Homo sapiens: one gene and its partners. The protein of the gene in region 1 purifies or fractionates together with the protein of each later gene. This does not show direct contact. Each region holds a gene or a part of one and is shown in the gene's direction. Other genes may lie near its edges.

What was found.
Region 2: the proteins of FLNB (region 1) and PAK2 fractionate together in Homo sapiens (co-fractionation; one large-scale study listed by BioGRID). This does not show direct contact.
Region 3: the proteins of FLNB (region 1) and UFD1 fractionate together in Homo sapiens (co-fractionation; one large-scale study listed by BioGRID). This does not show direct contact.
Region 4: the proteins of FLNB (region 1) and UBA1 fractionate together in Homo sapiens (co-fractionation; one large-scale study listed by BioGRID). This does not show direct contact.
Region 5: the proteins of FLNB (region 1) and EIF4B fractionate together in Homo sapiens (co-fractionation; one large-scale study listed by BioGRID). This does not show direct contact.
Region 6: the proteins of FLNB (region 1) and IARS1 fractionate together in Homo sapiens (co-fractionation; one large-scale study listed by BioGRID). This does not show direct contact.
Region 7: the proteins of FLNB (region 1) and GART fractionate together in Homo sapiens (co-fractionation; one large-scale study listed by BioGRID). This does not show direct contact.

The regions. Positions count from the first base shown.
Region 1 is NC_000003.12:58,126,922-58,130,421, forward strand, and holds part of FLNB (filamin-B), read left to right. Parts: intron 1-3,500. UniProt on the Homo sapiens protein: Connects cell membrane constituents to the actin cytoskeleton. May promote orthogonal branching of actin filaments and links actin filaments to membrane glycoproteins. Anchors various transmembrane proteins to the actin cytoskeleton.
Region 2 is NC_000003.12:196,742,857-196,746,356, forward strand, and holds part of PAK2 (serine/threonine-protein kinase PAK 2), read left to right. Parts: intron 1-3,500. UniProt on the Homo sapiens protein: Serine/threonine protein kinase that plays a role in a variety of different signaling pathways including cytoskeleton regulation, cell motility, cell cycle progression, apoptosis or proliferation.
Region 3 is NC_000022.11:19,462,194-19,465,693, reverse strand, and holds part of UFD1 (ubiquitin recognition factor in ER-associated degradation protein 1), read left to right. Parts: intron 1-419; coding exon 420-492; intron 493-3,500. UniProt on the Homo sapiens protein: Essential component of the ubiquitin-dependent proteolytic pathway which degrades ubiquitin fusion proteins.
Region 4 is NC_000023.11:47,207,329-47,210,828, forward strand, and holds part of UBA1 (ubiquitin-like modifier-activating enzyme 1), read left to right. Parts: intron 1-2,294; coding exon 2,295-2,359; intron 2,360-2,599; coding exon 2,600-2,795; intron 2,796-3,500. UniProt on the Homo sapiens protein: Catalyzes the first step in ubiquitin conjugation to mark cellular proteins for degradation through the ubiquitin-proteasome system.
Region 5 is NC_000012.12:53,030,456-53,033,955, forward strand, and holds part of EIF4B (eukaryotic translation initiation factor 4B), read left to right. Parts: intron 1-3,350; coding exon 3,351-3,500. UniProt on the Homo sapiens protein: Required for the binding of mRNA to ribosomes. Functions in close association with EIF4-F and EIF4-A. Binds near the 5'-terminal cap of mRNA in presence of EIF-4F and ATP.
Region 6 is NC_000009.12:92,290,898-92,294,860, reverse strand, and holds the start of IARS1 (isoleucine--tRNA ligase, cytoplasmic), read left to right. Parts: upstream 1-1,163; 5' UTR 1,164-1,250; exon of another isoform or gene 1,251-1,420; intron 1,421-2,267; exon of another isoform or gene 2,268-2,403; intron 2,404-3,938; exon of another isoform or gene 3,939-3,963. UniProt on the Homo sapiens protein: Catalyzes the specific attachment of an amino acid to its cognate tRNA in a 2 step reaction: the amino acid (AA) is first activated by ATP to form AA-AMP and then transferred to the acceptor end of the tRNA.
Region 7 is NC_000021.9:33,511,118-33,514,617, reverse strand, and holds part of GART (trifunctional purine biosynthetic protein adenosine-3), read left to right. Parts: intron 1-3,159; coding exon 3,160-3,366; intron 3,367-3,500. UniProt on the Homo sapiens protein: Trifunctional enzyme that catalyzes three distinct reactions as part of the 'de novo' inosine monophosphate biosynthetic pathway.

The DNA.
Region 1 (3,500 bases):
TCCCAGTAGAACCGGTAACATGGCAAAAAGCATCGGCTTAGAATTTTGACTGGAAACAGTTGTGCGTGTGTTGGAGGACCTAGTTCTTGATTCAGGGGAAAGCTGGTTCTTTACAAAGTTGAAAATCACAGTGGCTCACACCTGTAATCCCCAAACTTTGGGAGGCCAAGGCATGCAGATTGCTTCAGGTCAGGAGTTTGAGACCAGCCCAGGCAACATGGGGAATCCCCATCTTTACAAGAAATACAAAACTTAGCTGAGTGTGATGGTGCGTGCCTGTAATCCTAGCTATGTGGGGTGGGGGCTGTGATGGGACGATGTCTGAGATGGGAGCCTGGGAGGTTGAGTGAGCTGAGATTGCGCCACTGCGCTCCAGCTTGGGTGACAGAGGAAGACCCTGTCTCAAAAAAAAAAAAAAAGAAAAAGAAAGAAAATTTCTACCTTATTTTGTGCTTGGCTCCTTATTCATGTGTCTTGGTTTCTTTTTTTTCACTGACAATACTAGTAGCTGATCAAGATATGCAGATTCAAATTCTTTCTTTTGTATTTAGTGATGTCATGTGTAATCACTGTGAAACACGGTTTCTCAACTCCGGCACTATGACACTTTGGGCTAGATGATTCTTTGTGGTGTGGGGCTGTCCTGTTCATTGTAGACTTTTGTCAGCATCCCTGCCCTGTACCTGCTAGATGCCCATAGCAGACTTCTCCTTCCCCATTCTTATTTGTGGCAACCAAAAATGTCTCCATATCTTGCCAGATGTCTTAAGGGACAAAATCACTTCAGCCTGAACCACTGCTGTAAAGATTCAAACAATAAATAAATATATGACTTAAGTAGTGAAAGACCCTCCTCCATTTGTTTTGGGGGGAGGACTCTCCATAGGTTCTAGTTATCTACTCAAATGATTGTCACCCCCACACATTTTATTTATTTATTTCAATAGCTTTGGGGTACAAGTCGTTTGTGGTTACATGGATGAATTCTATAGTGGTGAATTCTGAGACCACCTCCCCCGCCCCCATTTCTAAAAGGGCAGGCAAGTGTGTGGTGTGGACAGAAGACCGAGGGCTGGGGCTGTTCTGGGCCACTTATGCCTTGTCTTAGGTGTGGTGTGAAGAGGGCAAAGCCCCACCCCAGGACCCCAGGAGCAGAAAGAGCCTCAGCGGGGTCTTGTTCTTCTTTCTCTGGGTCACGCTGAGAGGGGAAGGGCAGGTTGAGGGGCCCACTGCTGGGTTCTGGGTTAACTCTCAGGCAGCTGGAGTGTCCACTGACCACACGCTTTCCTGATTCCATTCCTGCTTCCCCCTTACCACATGGAAATGTGCACACACACTCACACTCACTCTCTCTCACACTGATCAGAAAGTATTGACATTCAACTCAGACTGATTCTACTCAGATACTCATTTAAGCCTCAAGTCATTTAAAACAACATGTTTCTCCTCAAACTTGTGCTTGCGGCTCATTCAATATAGATTTAAAAAATTCCTATAATCACTAGTCTAGGGGACTTCAGCTGTGGGCAAGACAAAGTTCCTGCCCTCAGGGAGCTTACTGTCTAGGGCTTTTACAACTAAAACTTGTGATGACTGCTATGAAGAATGAGAATGGGGCTCGGTGACAGAATTCAGAGCTACGGGCTTGTTTTGGAGTTTTGTAACACTTGCGTTAGGAGAGAGTTGGGCACAGGAAACGGGTAGAAGGCTGCTCCCAGGAGGGGTGATGTGGCTCCGACCTGGCAGGCAACAGTGGAGATGAACATCTCCTGTGGCAATGAAACTTTTTGACTATGGGGAAAGGCTGGTGAGTGCCACCAGCTTCCGAATCCCCCTTACAGAAAGGGGTCAGAGTTTGTCCCCTGTGGCCGACCTGTGAGCTTAAAGCAAATGGTCGTCTTTGAGCATAACAACAGAAAGACACTCATTTGTGGTTTTCCCATCAGGTGTGGATGGTGCCTTTTTATGTTTCAGGCTCTCTGTTGCCTCCCAGAGAGCCAAATGCCGGCTTTTCCAGAACCCCAGAACTTTCCCAGGCAGAGATATTTAGTGAAGTGTTGGTTGGTTTTCTAAGCATCAGGCTTCTTAGCTAAGGCAACCTATGGGGGTACTGCCGGGAAACAGTCGGCTACCTGCCACCTTCTAATTTGCTTTCATGGTAATTCTGGGTGCTTAAATATTAGCCTAGTTTTTCCTGGCCTGGTTAAAAACCCGGAGTGGAGTTATTTTTAACAACGTGTCCTGTCTTACCCGTAATGGCATGTTGATTTCCTGTGGTAGGCCAGCTGTGGTTGGTTGGTGGCGGCTCCCTAGACCACTGGATTGACTGGGGTTCAGAGTGCATGAGGAAGAAGATCTGGCATGAGGGAATGGTGACATGTGTCTGGGCATGGAACAGGGGAGTGGCGGATAATGCTTGGGGTCTGCCATCTTGGACAGTTTATCTTACCCGGGTTTGTTGGTTTTTGGCTACTCTCATGCTGAGCTCAGACAACTTCTAGTGGAGGCTCTGACTTAAAGATTGGCCTCAGAGGTAGTCCCTTGCCATCAGCTGTTGACATTGAAATCCTCAACTGTCACTCTCTAAAGTAAAGCCCCCTTTTGTTCCTCTCACCCCAGTGTGGAGGCCTGTGCTTGTTTGCCAGGGCCAGCCATTTATTTCACGTAGCTAAAGACCTGGATGCCGTTGAAACCCAGCTGTTGTTAGAAAGCCAGGGACTCAATTCTTTGTGTGTCTTGGCTGTCTACCATCTCTAATTCTACAAAGTATAAATTCTCTGGGATGCAAAGCAGAGATCCCTCAGCTTTCACGGCAGTCATTAACTTTGCCAGATACCATGGGGAGCACCAGGACTCCCATGCGAGGCAGAGGTGCACGTAGCCCCTTGGTGATGGGCGTGGTAGCCTGAGGCATGCTGCCGTTCGCTGGATGGGGAGGTCCCCCTCCACAGTGGAGTCCATGAGTGTCCTTGGCCTAGCCCTTGTTTCTCTGTTTAGCACTTCTCTAGCAAATCACTATCTCCTCTCCTCGACTCCTCTGTGCTTCATCTTTAAAACTGACACCCTCAAGGAGTCAGAGGCCCTCAGGGTCCCCCGGGGGGTCAGCCATGTAGCAGGAGCTCAGCTTACACTCAGGAAGACGGCAAGGCTTCACCAGGTGGCCGAGTGACCGAGAAGGCTGAGTGTGGTCAGAAGGTGCCAGCTGCATTGGAGGGAGAGGAGTCTGGGGGACACACAGGAGCCATGTGTGGGGGACAGGGCTGGATGTGGGCTGCAGGGCCTGCCCATCTCTCTCCGTTCTGTTGTTCCACCACTTGGCTTCCTCCTTCAGTTGCTCCAGCAGCCTGTCTCCTCCCTCGCCTCTAGGCTCCTGCATGTGCTGAGGCCTCTCTACTTGAAGCACCTCTCTGTCTGCTCCCTCTTGTGCCGCAACTGAGATGTTACTGGAAAGCTTTCTCTGGTCTCCCGCAGACCAGGTTAATTGCCTCCTGAGTGCTCCA
Region 2 (3,500 bases), about 140 Mb from region 1:
TTGCAGTGAGTCGAGATCGCGCCACTGCACTCCCGCCTGGGCTACAGAGCGAGACTCCGTCTCATTAAAAAAGAAAAAGAAAAAGAAACTGGGTCAACTTCAAGACTTTAAGTCGTAAAGGTTTCCATCAGTTTGGTATAAGAGTTGAGTTTCCAGACTAATCAGAGGGAGGGTGTTAATTGCAAATTGTGTGTCCAAGCTCTTCCTAGTATCCTTTTTGTGCCTTAACAGAGCAGAATAGGAAAGGAAAAAAATCCCTCATTGCCCCCAAAAAATAAAATACTGGTTGTTTTCTTCTGTGATCAGAGTTGAGTTTCATCACTTCTTCCCTTCTAGGGTCACCTGCCTGGTTAAGGGTAGTCAGTCTGAACATTCATTCAGGATTTCAGTGTTCCAGCCTACTATCTCTGAGTTTCTTTAGTACTTACTCCATGTATCCCATGTGGTTAGGAGCTAGAGTCCTGCGTTTGAATTCTTGCTGTTCTACTTTACCCTGGGCAAGATATACATTCTTTTCAAGACTTGCTTTTCTCACCTGTAAGATGGGGATAATAATAATAATACCAATTTCACAGGGATATTTAGATCAAATGAGGGAATGCAGGTAAAGGATTCTGTAATTATAGGTCTTAATAAACGTTAGTTAATAGTCTGTTCTTACATGCTGTAGAGTCGATACTCCTAAACTTAGAATTAAAACTGCCTTCTAGGCCGGGTGCGGTGGCTCACACCTGTAATCACAACACATTAGGAGGCTGAGGTGGGCCGATCACTTGAGGTCAGGAGTTCAAGACCAGCCTGGCCAACATGGTGAAACCTATATTCTCTACTATTCTTTAGTAGAGAATTTAGTATTCTCTACTAAAAATAAAAATATTAGCTGGGCGTGGTGGCGGGCGCCTGTAATCCCAGCTACTCAGGAGGCTGAGGCAGGAGAACTGCTTGAACCCAGGAGGCAGAGGCTGCAGTGAGCTGAGATTGCGCCACTGCACTTCAGCCTGGGTGACAGAGTGAGACTCCGTCTCAAAAACAAACAAACAAACAAACAAAAAACTGCCTTCTAAAAGAACGAAGTTTCTGAGACCGTAACTAAAAATAAAAATTACTTTTGGATGAATAAAATGTAATTTTTCAGGAGAAAAAATATGTAATAGTTTCACCACTGAAATAAAACATAGGGTTTTTGAACACAAATTTCTCAGATTTAAAAATATGCATATTTCCTGTATAAAAGTTGAAAAGTGGGCAGTGGCTGGTGGTGCCTGTAGTCCTAGCTACTTGGGAGGCTGAGGATCCTTTGAGTCCAGGAATTTGAGGTCAGCCAGGACAATACAGGGGGACCCCATCTCTTAAATCAGACAAAAATAAAAGTAGAAAAAAATATTAAATAAGAAATTTGGAAAGTGGTAAAAACTTTTAAGACAAAATTACCTTAGTCTCAGCTGGCAGAACCATTGTAACAAACTGGAACAGTGGTTTTGTTCCTTATTTTAAATTTAAATTCTAAAAGCAGTACATATTTATTATAAAAGGTTCAAACAAGTCAATTAAATATTTAAAGAGTGAAAATTCTTTGGGAGACTGAGGCAGGAGGATCACCTGAGCTCAAGAGTTGGAGGTATAGTGAGCTATGATTGCACCATTGCATTCCAGCCTGGGTGACAGAGCAAGACCCTGTCTTATAAAATTCTTAAAAAGTGAAAATTACTTTCTCTTTTTAGTCCCATTCCTTAGAAGTACCTACCCGCTGTTAATAGTTTTACTTACTGAGTTAGAAATAAGTAGTACCTTTTGTGTGTCGGATACTTTTTATGTTGATTTTAAAATAAAAAATCTGATCATTAAGTATTGTTTTCCATATCATGACATATAGTGGCACCTCTACTTTTTAAGTCATTAGATATTATGCTGTATGGTAGTACTTTAATTATTTGTGATCATTTATGTTATTTCTAACTTTGAGCAACTAAAACTAGAGCCTTAATGAACTTATACGTATGTCTTTGTGCACATGCATATGTAGATAAGTATTTCCATTAAAACGACTTGTAAGTGTGCATTTAAATTTCTTTTTTCTTTTTTTTTTGAATTGCATTCCAAAAAGACTTGTAATGTATATTTCCTTATTGAGTTGTAGAAGCTCTTCACATGTAATAGATATTAATCTATTGCCTTCTGTTTAAGATCTTCCTCATTCCACCTTTACAAAAAACATTCTTATGTGTTTTCTTCTGGTACTTTTAATAATTATTGTGTTTCAATCTTTTTTTTTTTTTTGTGACAGAGTCTCACTCTGTCACTCAGGCTGGAGTGCAGTGTTGGATCTCAGCTCACTGCAACTTCCGCCTCCCGGGTTCAAGTGATTCCCCTGCCTCAGCCTCCCGAGTAGCTGGGATTACAGGCACCATACCATCGCACCCAACTGATTTTTTTTTTTTTTTTTTTTTTGTAGAGACGGGGTTTTGCTATGTTGGCCAGGCTGGTCTCAAACTCCTGACCTCAGGTGATCTGCCTGCCTTGGCTTCCCGAAGTGTTGGGATTACAGGCGTGAGCCACCGTGCCCAGCCCATTGTGTTTCAATCTTAATCTTTCTGGAATTTTTTCATGCCTGGTGGGGATAAAAGAGTTTTAAAATAGTTTTGCTACAGAAATAAAATACAGGTATAAAAATATTTGGCCGGGTGCAGTGGCTTACGCCTGTAATCCCAGCACTTTGGGAGGCCTAGGTGGGTGGATCACCTGATGTCAGCAGTTGGAAACAGCCTAACCAACGTGGTGAAACCTTGTGTCTACTGAAAACACAAAAAATTAGCTGGGTGTGGTGGTGCACACCTGTAGTTCCAGCTACTCCGGAGGCTGAGGCAGGAGAATTGTCTGAGCCCGGGAGGCGGAGGTTGCAATGACCTGAGATCAAGCCACTGCACTCCAGCCTGGGCAACAGAACGAGACTCCATCTCTAAGTAAAAAAAAAAAAAGAAGAAGTAGTAACTAGATTTTTCTGTTCATTGGTATTTTTATTATCTTACTGGACTTCAGTAAACGTCTTTATTTTGTTTTCCAGGTTCATTGTTTTATCTGAGAATAATAGTAACTTCAGTCACTTTTCTATGGTTACAATATTTAACCTTTTTTTTTTTTCTTTTTCTTTCTTTTTTAAAGACGGGGTTTCACCGTATTAGCCAGGATGGTCTCGATCTCCTGACCTCGTGATCCGCCTGCCTCAGCCTCCCAAAGTGTTGGACAGGCATGAGCCACCGTGCCCAGCCCTTAACCCTGTTTTAGGTCTTTATTACATTGGCCTGAAGTTCCAAGACTTGGTTAAACAAGAGACGTGTCGTTGTCTTGAAATGACTCTGGTATTAATATTTTTACAGTTAGGGATGATGGCAGCTGTTGGATTTAGAGAAAGATTATTATTTTATTCTGTTTCTGCTTTACAAAAAATAGGAATGGCTTCTGAATTTTATGAGATGCTATTGTAACATTTAGATGATGATATG
Region 3 (3,500 bases), on another chromosome or scaffold:
CAGTTTGAAAATGTATACACCCATGTAATCAGAACATTTCCATGTCCCCAAAAGGTCCTTTCCTGTCAGTCCCCACCTGATCCCCTGGCCCAGAAACCTCTCAGCTACCTCCCATCCTCATAGATCTGTCTTTCTCAGGGTTCCATGTGGATGGAATCTCACTGCCCTTTTGTGGTTGGTTATTTCCCCTTCCCCCAGCTTGGCATTTGTTACCCCAGCTTGGCATTTCATCCATATTATTGCATATTAGGAGTTCCATCCTTCTTTATTGCCAAGTAGTACTTTATTGTATTAAAAGCTTCGTGTTTCAAGTACCATCATGGTACAGTCTCTACCTACCAGTAATCATCTAACATGGAAACTTGTTTCAGATTAAGGTATCCATCTTGCCATGTTGCCTTGACAGAATGTGTCTGCAGATTAGAAAACGCACTTAGGAACTTTGCCTGTCTGACCACCGGGGATGTGATTGCCATCAACTATAATGAAAAGGTGAGCCCAGTTCATGCAGGTCATTCCTGACAAGAGCCACCTGCAGTGTCCATTCTAATGTTTGAATGGGGCTTCTTTTTAAGCAGCGTATGCCTGGATCTTATCACCTAATTACTGCCTACTGTTTGGTTATTAAGTTTTCCCGGGTTCATATTTAGAGCCCTAATTCATTTGGTAACTCTGTTTTGAGGATAGATTGCATTTACAGGGGAACATTGATAGACTTATTAGTCATACCTCTGTGTACCTTGGTGGCAAGGCTGCTGGTTCTGTCTTGGTTTGAAAGGTCCCCACTGCACCTCTAATCTGAGCTAAGCCCTTTGCAGGGCTGTGGAGACACAATAACAACCCTGCTGGGTCCTTGTCCTTGGGATACCTGCCCCACAGAAGCTGACAGGCCCTTCAGTGGGGCCAAGTGCTGTGTGGCATCTGAGAAGCAAAGCCTGGCTCTGCCTTAGGGCAACACCTCCTAGGCTCACCTCTCCTCCTGGGAGCCCACATCCTCCTCCACCTCCTGTTTTCTTCAGCTTCCGTTTTCACTTAGCAGCTTCTCTAGGCTTGACCTTTCTGACACAAGTCTCTCAGGTCTGAATGCCTCTGTTTTCATCCCTGATTTTATGCTGTTTAGGTGTCTGGATCTAGACAATTTAACTGTAAAGTGAAATGACAGGACTTAGTCCAAAATTCAAGAAAGCATTCACTTTCCTATTACCTATGGGAATATGCCTGCAGGAGGATGTAATAGTTGGCAATCCTGCCATCAGGCTGTCCCACCACAGGCATGGAGCACAGTAATATGGGTGCCCCTGTTCACTGTGACTGTTGACAATTGACCCTCCCACAGAGCTGTTGCCAGGGCTAGCCTTAGTGTTCGGGAGTGACCACAGCCTGGCTTGGCTGGGCTTTCCCTGAAGCTAGCACTTAGCTCCTTCACAGCACTCTCTGGTCCCTTCGGGGACTGGGCCGTCACAGCTGTGTCACAGCTGCCTGTGGTTTAGCCAGTTACTCCCTTGGTGTCAGTGCAGGGATCCAGCTTATTCTCTGGCAGTTTCCTCATATTTGAGGCATCTGACCTTATTTTTCAGTTCCTTGGGTTTCGAATCACACTTTCTTTTTTCCTTTTAATAAACTAAGAAATAATCTTGTTCCCTTTAGCTTTGTGGAGAACATTTTAGGTATCGTTTACCTTAACTGAATACTCTAAGCTTTTATAATTAATTACAGGCAGTTTAATGTTATTGTTTTTAATGTTAAGGTAGTAATACTACATATAACTCCTAAACTGATGATAAAGGATAGTACTGATACTTTGCACTCTAAGGGAGGGTACATTATATAAGAGTGTATGTAAAATTGAAACACAGGTTTGAACTTCCACTTTTAGAAGTAGGGAAAACTAGATCCTCTAATGGGCCCTTCTGATTAATGTACTGTTGTGCTTATAGAGAATTTTAAACACTCTAAGCTGGGTTGCCCTGAGGGCAGATGGCCATATCAGTGCTCTAGTGGGAGATCTGAGTCAGAGATCAGGATTGAACGGGAACCCTTAAAAGCAGTAAAATATACACAGAGGTGGGTGTTGTCATTGTCTCAGGAGAAATAAACAGATCCTCTCTGGAAAAAGCACTCCAGTTTAGTTACGTCTTTGGGATTGCTGTCAATTGAACAAGCAAAGAACACATAATTAAACTACACCAAAGCAGAGACAATAAAAATTAGATCCCTAAGGAAATCAGCATTAGAATTTCTAGATACAAATGTAAAATAATTAGATATAAAATGTTCAAAGATATTTTTTAAAATGGAATTATAATAGCGAGCAACAAAAGGCTATCAAAAATAACCAGAAAGATTTGAAAAACAATGTTAAACAACAGCTATAAAAGAGTTAATGAAAGATGAATCTGAAGAAATAACAGAATTTCACACAGAGGAGCAAGGGGATGGAACATATGAGAGCTTGAGATGTTGAAGACACTGAGAAAGTCAAACATGCCCATTGCAATCCCAGTAGGAAAGAATGGAGGAATTGCAATAATCTGAAGAGATGGTAACTGAAATTGATTTAGAATTGGTGGTCAGCCCATCATGACAGGAAATTTATAATGTATAACAAACAGAATAAGCTACAGGTAGAAAATACCAAATACAGAGAGGTAAGCAGGGAGAAAACACAGTACCTTCAGAAGAACAGCAAGTAGCAGGTCTTTGAATAGCAACAGTTACAGCCAGTATCAAGTAACTATCATCAAAACCTTCCTTAAAGAATAAGGGCAAAGTGAAAATATTTTCAGATGAACCAAATCTGAGAGAGGTTATTTACCAATGGAATTTTAAAAGCATGTACTTTAGGAATAAGCATTATCCTAGAAGGAAAGCAAGAAGGAATAGGGAATAAATAAATTGGCAAATATGAATCCAGGGTAAATGTTGCCATATAAAGCAGTAATAATGTTTAATGTATGAAGCTTAAAAAATGACATCTAAAATGTTGGAAAAGAGTAAGTCTTTAGACTTACTCTCTTTTTTTTTGAGAGAGTCTCTCTTTGTCTCACCCTGGCTGGAGTGCAGTGGCGCGATCTTGGCTCACTGCAGCTACCACCTCCTGGGTTCGAGCAATTCTCCTGTCTCATCTCAGCCACCTGAGTAGCTGGGACTACAGGCATGTGCCACCACTTGCGGCTACTTTTGTATTTTTAGTAGAGACGAGGTTTCACCATGTTGGCCAGGCTGGTCTCGAACTCCTGACCTCAGGTGAGCCATCAGCCTCAGCCTCCCAAAGTGCTGGGATTATAGATGTGAGCCACCGCGCCTGGCCTAGACTTACTCTCTTGAGAGAGTTGTTTAGAATTAAAGTGTTCTCTGTTTACAATTCAATAAAGTTAATAAAAAAGATAGCTGAAGCTGGGTGTGGTAGCTCACACCTGTAATCCCAGCAATTTGGGAGGCTGAGGTGGGTGGATCACTTAAGTCCAGGAGTTTGAGACCAGACTGGGCAACATGGCAAA
Region 4 (3,500 bases), on another chromosome or scaffold:
GAATTGTCTCGGGCCACACATAAAATATACTAATACTAACGATAGCTGATGAGCTGAAAAAATAAAAGAAAAAAAGATCCGTGCATAAATCTCATAATGTCTTAAGAAAATTTACAAATTTGTGTTGGGCAGCATTCAAAGTCATCCTGGGCTGCATATGGGCCACAGGTTAGACAAGCTTGATCTAGCTGAAGTTTTACAAAGTGAACACACAGGTGACCACCACCTGGGCCAAGAAACAGAACCTAGGGATTACCATTGTGCTGTCAGAATAATTCTTAGTGCAGTGTTTGAGGCCAAACCATTTAGAATAGTAGGAGTATGAGGGTGGGAACAAAATAGGGAAGGGAAAAAAAAAACAGTTCCATCTGTCACTTTCTCCCTTCTGACACTGCAGTTCCAGAGTGGGTATGTTTGTATTTGTGCACCAACCACAGTCTTGCTAGGTCATGTGTAACCTTGAACTTAACCTCTCTGTGCCGCAGATTCCTGTTCTGTAAAATGGGAATGACAGCATCTACCTCACAGGACTATTGTGAACCACTTGGCATTTACTGTGTGCCTGGCACTGTTTTAACCAAGCTTTAAATATATATGTATTTGCTCATTTCTTCCTAGCAACCCCATGAAGGTAGGTATCACTGTTGTAACACCTGTTTTAGAGACAAGGCACAGAGGTAAAGATGTTATCCTGTGTGCCTGAAGTCACAAAACTAGGTAATACGTGGCATAGCTGGAATCTGAACCTGAATTTCTAACATCTGTACACTCCAAACCACCTCGCTAATGACTGCGAACTGTCCTAGGAATTCTCAGAGGCCAGAAGTTCTGTCTTGTTTGCTATTTTATTTTTTGAGACAGGTCTCATTCTGCCATTCAGGCTGAAGTGTATTGGCACAATCATAGCTCACTGCAACCTTCCAACTCCTGGGAAGTGTCTGTACGTGTGTGTGTGTGTGTGTGTAAGTGTCTGTGTGTACGTGTAAGTGTGTGTACGTGTGTGTGTGTGTGTGTGCGCACGCACGCGTGCCCGTTACGTTGACCAGGCTGGTTGTAAACTCCTGGGCTCAAGTGATCCACCTGCCTCAGCCTCCAAAAGTGCTGGGATTACATGTGTAAGCCTCTGTGTCCGGCCTCTGTCTTGTTTTCTGCCAAGTCCTCAGGGCCTGGATAGGGATCATTGTTGGTTTGGTCTGAGTTTTTTGTGTTTTAAAAAACTGTGGTAAGATATACCTAATTGAAGTTTTTATTTTTTATGGAGGCATAACATATCTAGAATAAGGTACACAGATTTTTTTTTTTTTTTTTTTGAGGTGGAGTTTTGCTCATGTTGCCCAGGTTGGAGTGCAGTGGCGCAGTCTCGGCTCACTGCAGCCTCCGCCTCCCAGGTTCAAGCGATTCTCCTGCCTCAGCCTTCCAAAGTGCTGGGAATACAGGCGTGAGCCACCTCGCCTGGCACTCAGATCTTAATACATTTTTAGGCTGGGCATGGCGGCTGACACCTATAATCTCAGCACTCAGGAGGCCAAGGAGTGAGGTTTGTTTGAGCCCAGGAGTTCAAGACCAGCCTAGGCAACATAGCAAGACCCTGTCTCTACAACAAATCTTAAAAATTAGCCGGGTGTGGTGGCATGTGCCTGCTGTCCCAGCTATTCGGGAGGCTGAGGTGGGAGGATCGTTTCAACCTGGGAGGTCAAGGCTGCTGTGAGCCGTGATTGCATCGCTGCACTCCAGCTCGGGTGACAGTGTGAGACTTTGTCTCAAACAACAAAACAAAACAGTTTTCCACATACACAGCACTATTGTAACCACTGCCCAAATCAACTTCATTGATTTTTCTTTTTTTGAGACAGTCTTCCTCTGTCACCCAGGCTGGAGTGCAATGGCATGATCTCGGCTCACTGCAACCTCCGCCTCCCGGGTTCAAGAGATTTCCTGCCTCAGCCTCCTGAGTAGCTGGGATTACAGGCATCTGCCACCACGCCCAGCTACTTTTTGTATTTTTAGTAGAGATGGGGTTTCACCATGTTGGTCAGGCTGGTCTCGAACCCTTGACCTCAGGTGATCCATCTGCCTTAGCCTCCCAAAGTGCTGGGATTACAGGTGTGAGCTACTGTGCCTGGCCTGGTTTTTCAATTGAGGTGGGGGAATGGGGAAGGCTAGAGGGCTTCCCCACTTCCAGAGTAGCTGTGCGCCTTGTACTTGCTTTATTCACTGATGGTCCTTCTAATAATGCCTGCGGAAACCCATTTTGTCAACTGTGGCCACATGTAATCTGTTTGCTCTGTCTGCAGTGGGCTCGGGATGAGTTTGAAGGCCTCTTCAAGCAGCCAGCAGAAAATGTCAACCAGTACCTCACGTGAGTAACTCGAGTGCCCTCTCGCCCTGTCCCTGTCCACCAGCCAAGGCATCCCGGCTGCTTTCCTCATGACAGTAACACTTGGCACCAGGCACACTTTTCACATGAATGAGTGGCTGTTGGGGCCTCATGTTGTTTGGGGTCGGGACTAGTTTTCCATGGAGAAAGTAAGATTGCTCTGGAGCCCACTCTTGAGGCTGACATGTAATCCTATCCTCTGTCCTCTTCGATTCCTGATAGAGACCCCAAGTTTGTGGAGCGAACACTGCGGCTGGCAGGCACTCAGCCCTTGGAGGTGCTGGAGGCTGTGCAGCGCAGCCTGGTGCTGCAGCGACCACAGACCTGGGCTGACTGCGTGACCTGGGCCTGCCACCACTGGCACACCCAGTACTCGAACAACATCCGGCAGCTGCTGCACAACTTCCCTCCTGACCAGGTAATGCCCAGTTGTTGGGTCCATTTGGCAGAATGTGTTTCCCTGAAATGGGAGCCTGCAGTGTGGGTCCTCCCACTGTGGAGTCCAGCTGTGGCAGGTGCCCTGAGGCATGGGGATCTGAGAAGAGTGATTGATCCTGACCTGCTTTTTCCTCACCCTAGTTCCTTTGAGCAAAGAGGCTTGGTTGCTATTGCCCTTGACTGTGGTGTGGGCTGCGTCATACCTGATTCCCAGTCAGGGCTGTAGGGATTATGGGGGAGAAATTCTGGAGTTAAGAGCACAGGAATCAATATGGGTTCAAATCCAAACTCTACTTGAACTTAGGCAAATCACGTAACTTCTCTCTGTACCTCAGTTTCCTCGTCTGTGAAGTAGAAATAATAGTGATCTATCTCATGGGGGGTTTGGGGAGGATTAACTGGTATTTATTAAAATGAAGTTAGTACAATGCCTGGTAATCCATGAGAGTTTGTTAAATGATGGGCTGTTTAGCACAAAATGGCTACCCAGTGATTGGTAATTGTTCTCTCAGCCAGATCTCTGGTTCAACCTGTGGGACCCTACAGTTGAGGTATTTTGTGATTGGCTCCAGTCCGCATCGAGTGCCCAACCCAAGATAGTGAATTGGGGGCACATCTGGGGCCTAGGTGAAGCGTGAAGATTGTCAGAGAGGCCTTCACTCTCAGGTCCTGTTCTCAAAAATCT
Region 5 (3,500 bases), on another chromosome or scaffold:
TAGTTGCCCAGGCTAGAGTGCAATGGCGCGATCTCGGCTCACTGCAACCTCTGCCTCCCAGGTTCAAGTGATTCTCCTGCCTCAGCTTCCCAAGTAGCTGGGCTTGCCACCACGCCCGGCTAATTTTTGTATTTTTAGTAGAGACGGGGTTGCACCATGTTGGCCAGGATGGTCTGGATCTCTTGACCTTGTGATTCGCCCGCCTCGGCCTCCCAAAGTGCTGGGATTACAGGCGTGGGCCACTGCGCCCAGTGAAAAAACTACGTTCTTAAAAGCGATTTCCTCAAGCAAGAAGCCTAAAAATAATAGCTAACATTTATTAACCATTTACTCTGTTCCATCAGTGAGCTGAGGGCTTGTACAAGTATTGTTTAATTCTAAGACTTCTGTGTGGTATAGGTAAAATTACAAGTTAGAAAAGTGGAGGCTCAGATGTGGGCCTCATGTTCTCCTTGACTTCTGACCTTTTCCTCTCTCACACTGTCCCTTACCTCCCCACCAAGAGCTGCATACCTAATTTTTTATTTCTCTTCTTGCTCTTACCCCCCCATTCCCTCTAAGATTTGCCCTCTTGTCTCTAGTTGCTGCTGCTACCTTCGTTGAGGCCTCATTGCTGCACCCACGTTACTGGCCATTGCCTCCTAACAGAGTTCCCTTTCTTGCTCCGTTCTTCACATTGGCCCCAGTTGTCAGTTGTCTTTCTGGCATAAGATCTAATTACCTTATTCTCCTGTTTAGACCTGTCTAGTTTCCCCATGGCCTGGAACATAGCCCTTTCTCTATACCTCTGACATACACGGGCCTTCACTGTTTGCCCAGCCTTTACTTTTTTCTTCTTGAGACAGGATCTCACTCTGTCGCCCAGGCTAGAATTGCTGTGACATAATCATGGTTAACTGTAGCCTCAGCCTTCTGAGCTCAAGTGATCCTCCTTCCTCATCCTCCCCAGTAGCTGGGACTAGAGGTGCGTGCCATATGCCTGGCTAATTTTGATATTTTTTCTAAAGATGGGGTTTCTCCACATTGCCCAGGCTGGTTTTAAACTTCCAAGTTCAAGTGATCCACTTGCCCTCGGCCTACCAAAGTGCTGGGATTACAGGCGTGAGCCACTGTGCCCGGCTGCGTTCTTTTATTAATATCTTAAATGAGCTACTTTTTCTGAGCCCCTATTTTATCTTACAAAAGTGACGGGGCTATAACACAGATTTAAAATATGTTTAGGAACATATATAAACTGTCGGCTTAAAGCCCTCGTAGAAAATTTAGATCTTGTTAAACAGTACCCTCTATCTACAGGTACTATGTGCATATGTAGTAAAAGTATAAAATCAAGTGTGGGCATGATGAAGTCACCATCTAGTGGTTATTTAGAGGACAGAGTACAGCTGGTCATGTCATCAGGAGGTTTTACCTCTTTGTTAAGGTTACATTACTTAAGCCAGGTGATTGTATACATAGGCTTTCTTTATATTCTCTGTATCTTTTGTATATCCAAAATATTTAGGACAAACAATCATTTTTAGAAATTTAACTTCCTTGAAACACTTAGGTTTCTCTTGAAAGTGTTCTGACAACTTGAATTGAGGAAGAAATCAGACTGCCTGCCTTAAGAGTTTATTTGTTCAGTGTTACATGCTTTGCCCCATGAACCACCTGCCAAATTTATATTATACACAGAGACAAGGGTATAAGATCTAGAGTCTTCCTGGCTGGGCGTGGTGGCTCACATCTGTAACAGCACTTTGGGAAGCCAAGGCAAGCGGATCACTTGAGGTCGGGAGTTCAAGACCAGCCTGGCCAACATGGTGAAGCCCCATCTCTACTAAAAATACAAAAATTAGTTGGGCATGGTGCCACGTGCCTATACTCCCAGCTACTGAGGAAGCTGAGGCAGGAAAATCAGGGAGGCAGAGGTTGCAGTGAGTTGAGATCACACCACTGCCCTCCAGCCTGGGTGACAGAGCGAGACTGTCTCAAAAAAAATAAAGAACTAGAATCTTCCCTATCATATTGTATTAGTTCTTAACATGCAGATTTCGGAGCAAGATACTTTCATCCAGTAGTTTAATGATGGTCAAAAATTTCTTCCCATATAAAAGAAGTCTTGATAGATTATTAATTTATTACTTAAATGTTTACCATTTTTAGTCTTTCCTGTGGTCTTGTACTACATCATGGATGTGGTAGAAGAGTAATTGAACTTGGGTTTTTTTGTTTTTTTTTTTTTTTGAGATGGAGTTTGGCACTTGTTGCCCAGTTTGGAGTGCAGTGGTGTGTTCTCAGCTCACTGCAACCTCCGCCTCCCCGGTGGGTTCAAGCGATTCTCCTGCCTCAGTCTCCTGAGTAGCTGGGACTACAGGCATGTGCCACCACTCCTGGCTAATTTTGTATTTTTAGTAGAGATGGGGTTTCTCCATATTGGTCAGGCTGGTCTCGAACTCCTGATCTCAGGTGATCCGCCCGCCTCAGCCCCCCAAAGTGCTGGGATTACAGGCGTGAGCCATTGCGCCCGGCCAGAACTTGGTTATTTATGCCACCTATTTTTATTTTTATTTATTTTTATTTATTTATTTTAGGCGTAGTTTTGCTTTTGTTTTCCAGCCTGGAGGGCTGGAGTGCAGTGGTGCGATCCTGGCTCACCACAACCTCTGCCTCCCAGGTTCAAGCGATTCTCCTGCCTCAGCCTCCCGAGTAGCTGGGATTATAGGCATGCACCACCATGCCTGGCTAATTTTTTATTTTTACTAGAGACGGGGTTTCTCCATGTTGGTTGTGTTGGTCTCGAACTCCCGACCCCAGGTGATCCACCCGCCTCGGCCTCCCAAAGTATCGGGATTACAGACGTGAGCCACCACGCCCAGCCTGAGCTACCTATTTTCTTTTTTTTTTTTCTTTTTTTTATTTTTGAGACGGAGCCTTGCTCTGTCACCAGGCTGAAGTGCAGTAGCTCGATCTTGGCTCACTGCAACCTCTGCCTCCCAGGTTCAAGCAATTCTCTTGCCTCAGCCTCCTGAGTAGCTGGGACTACAGGTGCGCGCCCCAACGCCCAGCTAATTTTTGTATTTTTAGTAGAGACGGGGTTTCACCATGTTGTCCAGGATAGTCTCGATCTCTTGGCCTTGTGATCCACCCGCCTCGGCCTCCCAAAGTGCTGGGATTACAGGCGTGAGCCACCATGCCCAGCCTAAACTACCTGTTTTCTAATGATCTATTTGCCTTCTGTGGATTGGTTAGGCCACTAACTTGAATCTCATGTAGCATTTCATAGGAGTTATATCTGAGAAATCTGGCTTTCAGCCATCAGCTTCTGGTGATTGGAAAACTATTACTTAAAGTTTCATTTAACTTAGGTCCCCCCCAAAGACCCAAACTGAATCTAAAGCCTCGGAGTACTCCTAAGGAAGATGATTCCTCTGCTAGTACCTCCCAGTCCACTCGAGCTGCTTCTATCTTTGGAGGGGCAAAGCCTGTTGACACAGCTGCTAGAGAAAGAGAAGTAG
Region 6 (3,963 bases), on another chromosome or scaffold:
ATATGCTGAACAGACTATCAAAATGTTCCTAAACTTAATAAGAAACTGCATTCTACCTATTCTAGGCCAGATAAATTTTTTATATCCCTCTAACGGATACAATAGGCAGCTACGGAACTACTCCCAATTTGGCAAGATCCAGAATTTCCTTTAGAGGCTCTGGGGCCAAAGCCCGAGGCCTACTGCCCTTTGCAAGGCTCCAGATTTTAACCAGCAGATCAGTAAGGTACCAAGCCGACTCATAGCAATGATAATAAGTATGCAGGCCGGGTGCAGTGGCTCATGCCTGTAATCCCAACAGTTAAGGAGGCTAAGGCAAGCAGATCGCTTGAGCCCACGAGTTTGACAGCAGCCTAGGCAACATAGCAAGACCCCGTTGCTACAGAAAATACAAAAATTAGCCGGGCGTGGTGGCGCTAGCCTGTAGTCCCAGCTACTTGGCCAGGGATGAGGTGCGAGGATCATCTGATCCGGGGAGGTTGAGGCTGCAGTGAGCCATGACCGTGCCACTGCACTCCAGCCTGGGCGACAGAATGAGACCGCTTCTCAAAAAAAGAAAAAAAAATCGTTTGTGCAATGTTTTCATTACCGGAAACATTTTAAGTAAAATACAATAAAACTTTTAAATCTGGTTGTCAGACCCTTCCTTCCCTTTTGTTATTATCGTTTCACGTAGCCATTTATGATAGGAGAAGCGGCTTTGGGGTCGGCGGCTCAGGGCCCAAAAGTATAATTATTAAAGCCACCTCTCCGGAAGTTGCTGTTTGTCGTTATCAATTTAGGTACGAAGTGTCCAGTCAGATAAATACTGACAAAAGCAAACAAGATGAAGAACATGAGCCCCGACCTCGGCGCCCCTTCCCAGTGGGCCGTCACCTACCCGGAGGTGCCCACAACCCGAGTGAGACCTCGGTCTACACTACTGCAACGGATACAAGCAGCACGCACAGCGCCGCCCTCAGCGCTGGTTCGTTTTCCACGTGGAGGCGCAAAACCAGCAAGCACCACTGTCGCACCATCCGAGCCAGTGGGCGCAATCATGTCCGGCGCGACCAATCGGCGCCTGGCTTGTTGGCAGGTGTCAGGCAGCGCGCACTGATTGGCCGGTGCGGAGCCTGTCTCCTTCACTGGATCCCGCATTTTCAGCGCGTTGCATCACCTCCGTGCGCCCGGTTGCAGCGTGGACGCCGGATGAGTTGCTTTTAGGCTTGCTGGCCCGCGGGGCTGTCCAGGCACGCGAGGCCCCTCAGGTACGCCCTCTCTTCCCTGCAGGATCCGGCCCTCAAAGACGAGGGTCACGCACGCGTTACAACCCCGAAACAGTAGCACAAGATTTAATTTTTAAAAGAGCGTGTTTCTTCGGGGCTTGCCGTTCGTTCGTTTCCAGCCTCAGGAATTTATGGTCGCCTTTTTGAATGAGGTAGTGTTTGAAATGAGTAAAATCTTTTTAAAATGATATACATAGTATAAATTGATATAGCTGTGACTTTATGTATAGGCAATACGTATTTTTATATGTCTTAATTTATTACCTTCAATGGCTGCGAGATACTTATTTTATTGATGTACCGTAATTTACTTCAGTCACCATGAATATTTAGATTGTTTTCAGTTATTTGCCTGGAGAAACAATTATTCGGTGAATGTCATTGTATACACATTTTGTACATTTGCATGAGTATACCTGTGGAGTCTATGTTAATAGGATATAACTAAATTGAGGAAACGTTTGAGACGGTCCCACTTTCAGGTTACATTTGACTTAATAGATTATGAAGACCTGAGAATAAAAGGAGAAACAGAAATGGATTTAGAGGAGAATGAAAAGGGGGAACAGAAATAGGCTTATAGGTAGGATCCACATGACTTGATGATTAATTGGTTGTGTGTATCTTCTGAGTAGTGTCAGGGGTGACTCAAAAATGTCATGCCTAAGTAATGGGAAGAATATTGGAACCACTAATACAGTAGTTTAAAAGGGAAGCAATTCTGGAAGGAATTATGAAATTTTAAACAAAACATGGTTTTAGTGTGCGTTTCTAAAATATATTGAGGCAAAATAATATGAAGTAATGTGAATAATATGTAGTTAATATCAGGGAGGGTGGTCTCGAAATTGCTGAACGGGAAGTTGAGGTTAAGGTGACCTGAAGGAGTTGTGGAGCAGCGAAGAGTCAAGGGCCTGGATTATAATAAGAGGGAAGCAAAGGGGATGGCATCCCTCTGCACAACAAGGTTGTTGTGCAAGGTTAACCTGCTCTGTCCCTGCCCTGTGGTTGCTGGATGCTGTTGTGCATGGACAGCTCTCCAGTGGATTCGATGGGCCATAGCAATCCTGTGATTTATGCATGGAGGCTGCTTCTCCTCAGCAGCTGCCATAGCCCGGTCGCTGGTACATGATTCTTCCTGAATAGTCAATGCTGTTATACTGAGTGTTTATGCTTGACGTAATAATGCAGTGATTCTTAATCTTTGGGGAAAGTAGAGACTCCCTAAAAAACACAGTAAAAGCTGAATGAGCTGGCCAGGCATAGTGGCTCATGCCTGTAATCCCAGCCCTTTGGGAGCCCAGGGCAAGAGGATCGCTTTAGCCTAGGAGTTGAAGACCAGCCAGGGCAACATGGCAAAACCCTGTCTCTACAAACCACCCCCTCCCCACCAAAAAAAAAAAAAAAAAAAGCTGAGTGTGGTGGTGCACACCTGTAGTCCTAGCTACTTGGCGGGCTAAACTGGGAGGAACACCTGAACCCAGGGAGGTCAAGGCTGCAGTGAGCCATGATTGTGCCACTGCACTCCAGCCTAGGTGACAGAGTGAGCCACTGTCTCAAAAAAAAAAAAAAAAAAGGAATGATCCTCTTCTCAGAAAGCTTAAATCTTATTTTCTCAAAAATAAAAATTCAGATAGATATTCCTGAATAATTGTTAGAACAGTGCAAGAGTGGTGATGTTCAGACTTTGATGTGAATGCTCATCCCCTAGGGATCTTGTTAAAATGCAGGTTCTGACTCGTAGGTGCGAGGTGAGGCTGGTAAGTCTGCATCTCTAATAAGCTCCCATAGATGTGGGCCATAGTAGGACCAGCCTTGAAGAGATTAGAATGTGTTGGTATCTAAAGGTCTGTTAGTCTTCAGATAACAATCCCATAAGTTTCAGTTGGCCTCTGATAAGGTACACAATGAACCTAAATAAATCAGTAAATGCACAAACACTTATTTTGGTCCTTGAAAGGCTAGAGGTTATAATAAGAGTTGAAGATCTAAAATGCCTTAAACCTTCTGTTTAATACCTTTTAATGGCATACTGTGATCAGAAATAGCTATTTCAGTTAGTTAAACAGCCCAACTGTTCTTGTCCTGTTTTTTCTTAAATTAAACTCAGAGGCACTCACACATCTGAAAAATTAATGAGGGTAAAAGAAAATGAAAGATACTACTTGTCACAGACTTTTTTTTAAATGATAACTTGAATCAATAACTTGATTAGACTATGATGCTTTTGATGCTTTCAAAACTGTTTGAGGTATGTAGGTGTCTTTTCCTGTAGAGTTGATTACCCTGGTCTGTTGTGGTTCTTGAGTACTTAAGATTTTTTATCTTCTCTGTTGTTCCCTTATTAGCAATTTTATCCCCTTCTGATCTGATACTGACTTGGAAAGCTCGTCACCCACCTTGTTAGAATTGTTAAGTAAATATAAATAGACTTTGAGAAGGAAAGGTCTCAAGGGTGGCTCACTAGATACTTAAGTCATAGATTGATCAAGTATCTCTGCATGAGGTTATTAGCAAAACATTTAAAAAGACACTTTAAGACTTCTCTCATTAGGGACTAAACCAGAAAGGTATAGGGCTCATCCTTCATAAAAATCATGAATAAGCAATAAAAAGGGTAAAATGGAAAACTGGAATCTATATTTGAATGTGAGATTCTCATCTTTTTAGCTTTAAGATTTTTTAAGTTTTACCA
Region 7 (3,500 bases), on another chromosome or scaffold:
CTGCTGATGAATGGGGAAAGGAGGCAGGACTGATTTGTGCATTTGCCAGTTTTTGTGGTATAAATACTCCCATCATAGCTGCTTTAAAAATGGCTGTTTAACAGTCTCTACAAGCTGGCTCTAGCACACCACTAGTTAAAAACAACATAGTAGTCACCTCATTAAGAAACTGAAAGTGATATAGCCATATTCCTGAAAGCAGTTATAGTTTGAGTTACACAAATGTCTGTATTCCAATAAAAGCCATTGCACAATTCCTTGCATCAGCCTCTAAAGTTTCTTCCAGGAATCATACTTTGACAACAGATTTAAGTAAGGACTTCTGGGGGTTTTTTTGTTTGTTTTTTATTGAGACAGAGTATCACTCTGTCGCCCCAACTGGAGTTCCGTGGTGCGATCACAGCTCACTATTGCCCCAACGTCCTGGGTTCAAGTGATTCTCCGACCTCAGCCTCCTAAGTAGCTGGGACCACAGGTAACACGCCACCACACTTAGCTATTTTTTGTATTTTTAGTAGAGACGGGGTTTCACCACATTGCCCAGGCTGATCTTAAACTCCTTGGCTCAGAGCAATCTGCCCATCTCAGCCTCCCAAAGCGCTGGGATTACTGGCATGAGCTACCACACCTGGCCAGGACTTTTCAACATTAAAATTACAACTTACATTATTCATGAAGTACTTGTTCATTTATAGAAGCTAGACTCTTAGTCTGCCAGTGTTTTTTCCTATAAATATTTTGTAAAACTTCACTAAAACAAGATCATAATTTGGTAATCTGCTACTTGCCCTGCCATTAAATATGTCATCACTATCTCCTTGTCTTAGTAGCATCATTTTTGATAACAAGTATTCCATTTTACAGATGTACCACTATTTAGTTTTAAGTTGCTATTTACTTTTAACTATTGAGAGCATAGTGAACAATGTAGTTACTAAATCTGAGGTCAACTATTAAGAATGGACATTTCCCAGCTACTATAAATGGAATTGAATCTAAGAGTCATAGACATGTGATTCATTTTTATTTTTATTTATTTTTATTTTTTTAGACAGAGTCTCACCCTGTCGCCCAGGCTGGAGTACAGTAGTGCGATCTCAGCTCACTGCAACCTCCACCTCCCGGGTTCAAGTGATTCTCCTGCCTCAGCCTCCCGAGTAGCTGGGATTACAGATGTGCGTCTCCACGCCCAGCTAATTTTTGTATTTTCAGTAGAGATGGGGTTTCATCATGTTGGCCAGGCTGGTGTCGAACTCCTGACTTCGTGATCTGCGGGCCTCGGCCTCCTAAAGTGCTGAGATTACAGGCCTGAGCCACTGCACCCGCCTCATTTTTAAAATTGTATCAACTTCAGGCTGGGCATGGTGGCTCACCCCTGTAATTCCAGCACTTCGGGAGGCTGAGGTGGATGGATCCCCTGAGGTCAGGAGTTCAAGACCAGCCTGGCCAGCATGATGAAACCCTGTCTCTACTAAAAATACACACACACACACACACACACACACACACACAGAGACACACACACACACACACAAATAACCAAGTGTGGTAGCACATGCCTATAATCCCAGCTACTCGGGAGGCTGAGGCATGAGAATAGCTTGAACCCAGGAGGCGGAGGTTGCAGTGAGTCGAGATCACGCCATTGCACTCCAGCCTAAACGACAGAGAGATACTCTGTCTCAAAAAAAAAAAAATTGTATCAACTCCAAAGTATTAAAAAACTGATTATCAGCTGAGCATGATGGCTCATGCCTATAATCCCAGCGCTTTGGGAGGCTGAGGCAGAAGAAGCCCAGGAGGTCAAAACTAGACTGGGCAACATGGTAAGACCCTGTCTCTCCAAAAAAAAAATTTTTTAAATAGCCAGGCATGGTGTCGCATGCCTGTAGTCCCAGCTACTCAGGAGGATGAAGTGAGAAGATCACTTGAGCCTGGGACATCAAGGCTACAGTGAGCCGTGTTCATGCCACTGCACTCCAGCCTGGGCAACAGAGCCAGATCCTGTCTCAAAGAAAAAAAAAATTATCCAATAAATAAATCAAATAAATAGGCAGAACTGATAGTAAACCTTATTATTTAATAAAAAGCTGAGTTCACATTGGCTTCCCTTTCTTAAGAGCATCATAAATAATTTAATTCAGTATAGTTTTTTTAAAAAATCAGATCCCATAATCGTAGATTCCAAAGAACTATCCAGATTCTTTTTAAATTCAGAAATGTTGTGTGTGTGTATATAGACCTTTACCTAAAAATTTTTATTAGAGATTTTTGTTGTATTATTTGTGATAAGAGAGAATGTATTCTTTTTTTTTTTTTTTTTTTTTTCAATTTGAGTCGGAGTCTCACTCTGTCCACCAGGCTAGAGTGCAGTGGTACCATCTCGGCCCACTGCAACCTCCACCTCCCAGGTTTAAGTGATTCTCCTGCCTCAGCCTCCCGAGTAGCTGGGACTACAGGTGTGCGCCACCACGCCCAGCTAATTATTGTATTTTTAGTAGAGAATGGGTTTCACCATCTTGGCCAGGGTGGTCTCGATCTCCTGACCTCGTGATCCGCCCACCTCAGCCTCTCAAAGTGTTGGGATTACAGGCATGTAATCCAAAGTGTTGGGATTCTCACGCCCGGCCGAGAGAATGTATTCTTATAGCAGACCTAGGAAGTCTAAATTTTAAAAAGAATGAGAGGGAGAGGGTGTTGATCCGCCTTCCATTAACATAACTTTTCTTGAGGAGTGTATGCATTTTCTCTAAATATGTAGATAAGCCATCTAGTTTTGCATTGTACTTTGGGTGCATTTTGGTCATCACAAAGACTCAGCCAAACATTCACAAAAGGATGGTATACTGGCCTTTGCTGGAATTCAGCTACTAGCTCATCTGATCCATTAGGGAATGTCTAAGGGTCTAGTTAGTTAATGTAGCACAAAACCTCACTCATTTGTGAGTACTGGCCAAGTGTGTCAACAAAAAAATGTTCTTAATGTCTAAGGTACAAATGGATCCCCAAATAAAAAGTTCTCAGAGGCCAATTTATAGTTTTACCCTACATAAAATAGCAGAGCCTGATTATAATTTCCACATCTTTGAATATGTGCATACTTTTGTACTTTGTGTGAGAAGGTAGGAAAATCAAACAATTCGTGTCTATTTTTTTCAGATGCCCAGACCTGGAGGATCCCCAGGGTCTTCTCATGGTTGCAGCAGGAAGGACACCTCTCTGAGGAAGAGATGGCCAGAACATTTAACTGTGGGGTTGGCGCTGTCCTTGTGGTATCAAAGGAGCAGACAGAGCAGATTCTGAGGGATATCCAGCAGCACAAGGAAGAAGCCTGGGTGATTGGCAGTGTGGTTGCACGAGCTGAAGGTACTTGCTCCTTACTCATTTTTAGATATATAATTTTAGCTGTATAATTTTAGCTATACCTCAGCCTTGCCTCACAAGCTTTCTGCCCACCTTTTAGTGCAGCCATCGCTATGGCAACTATCTTTACACAGATG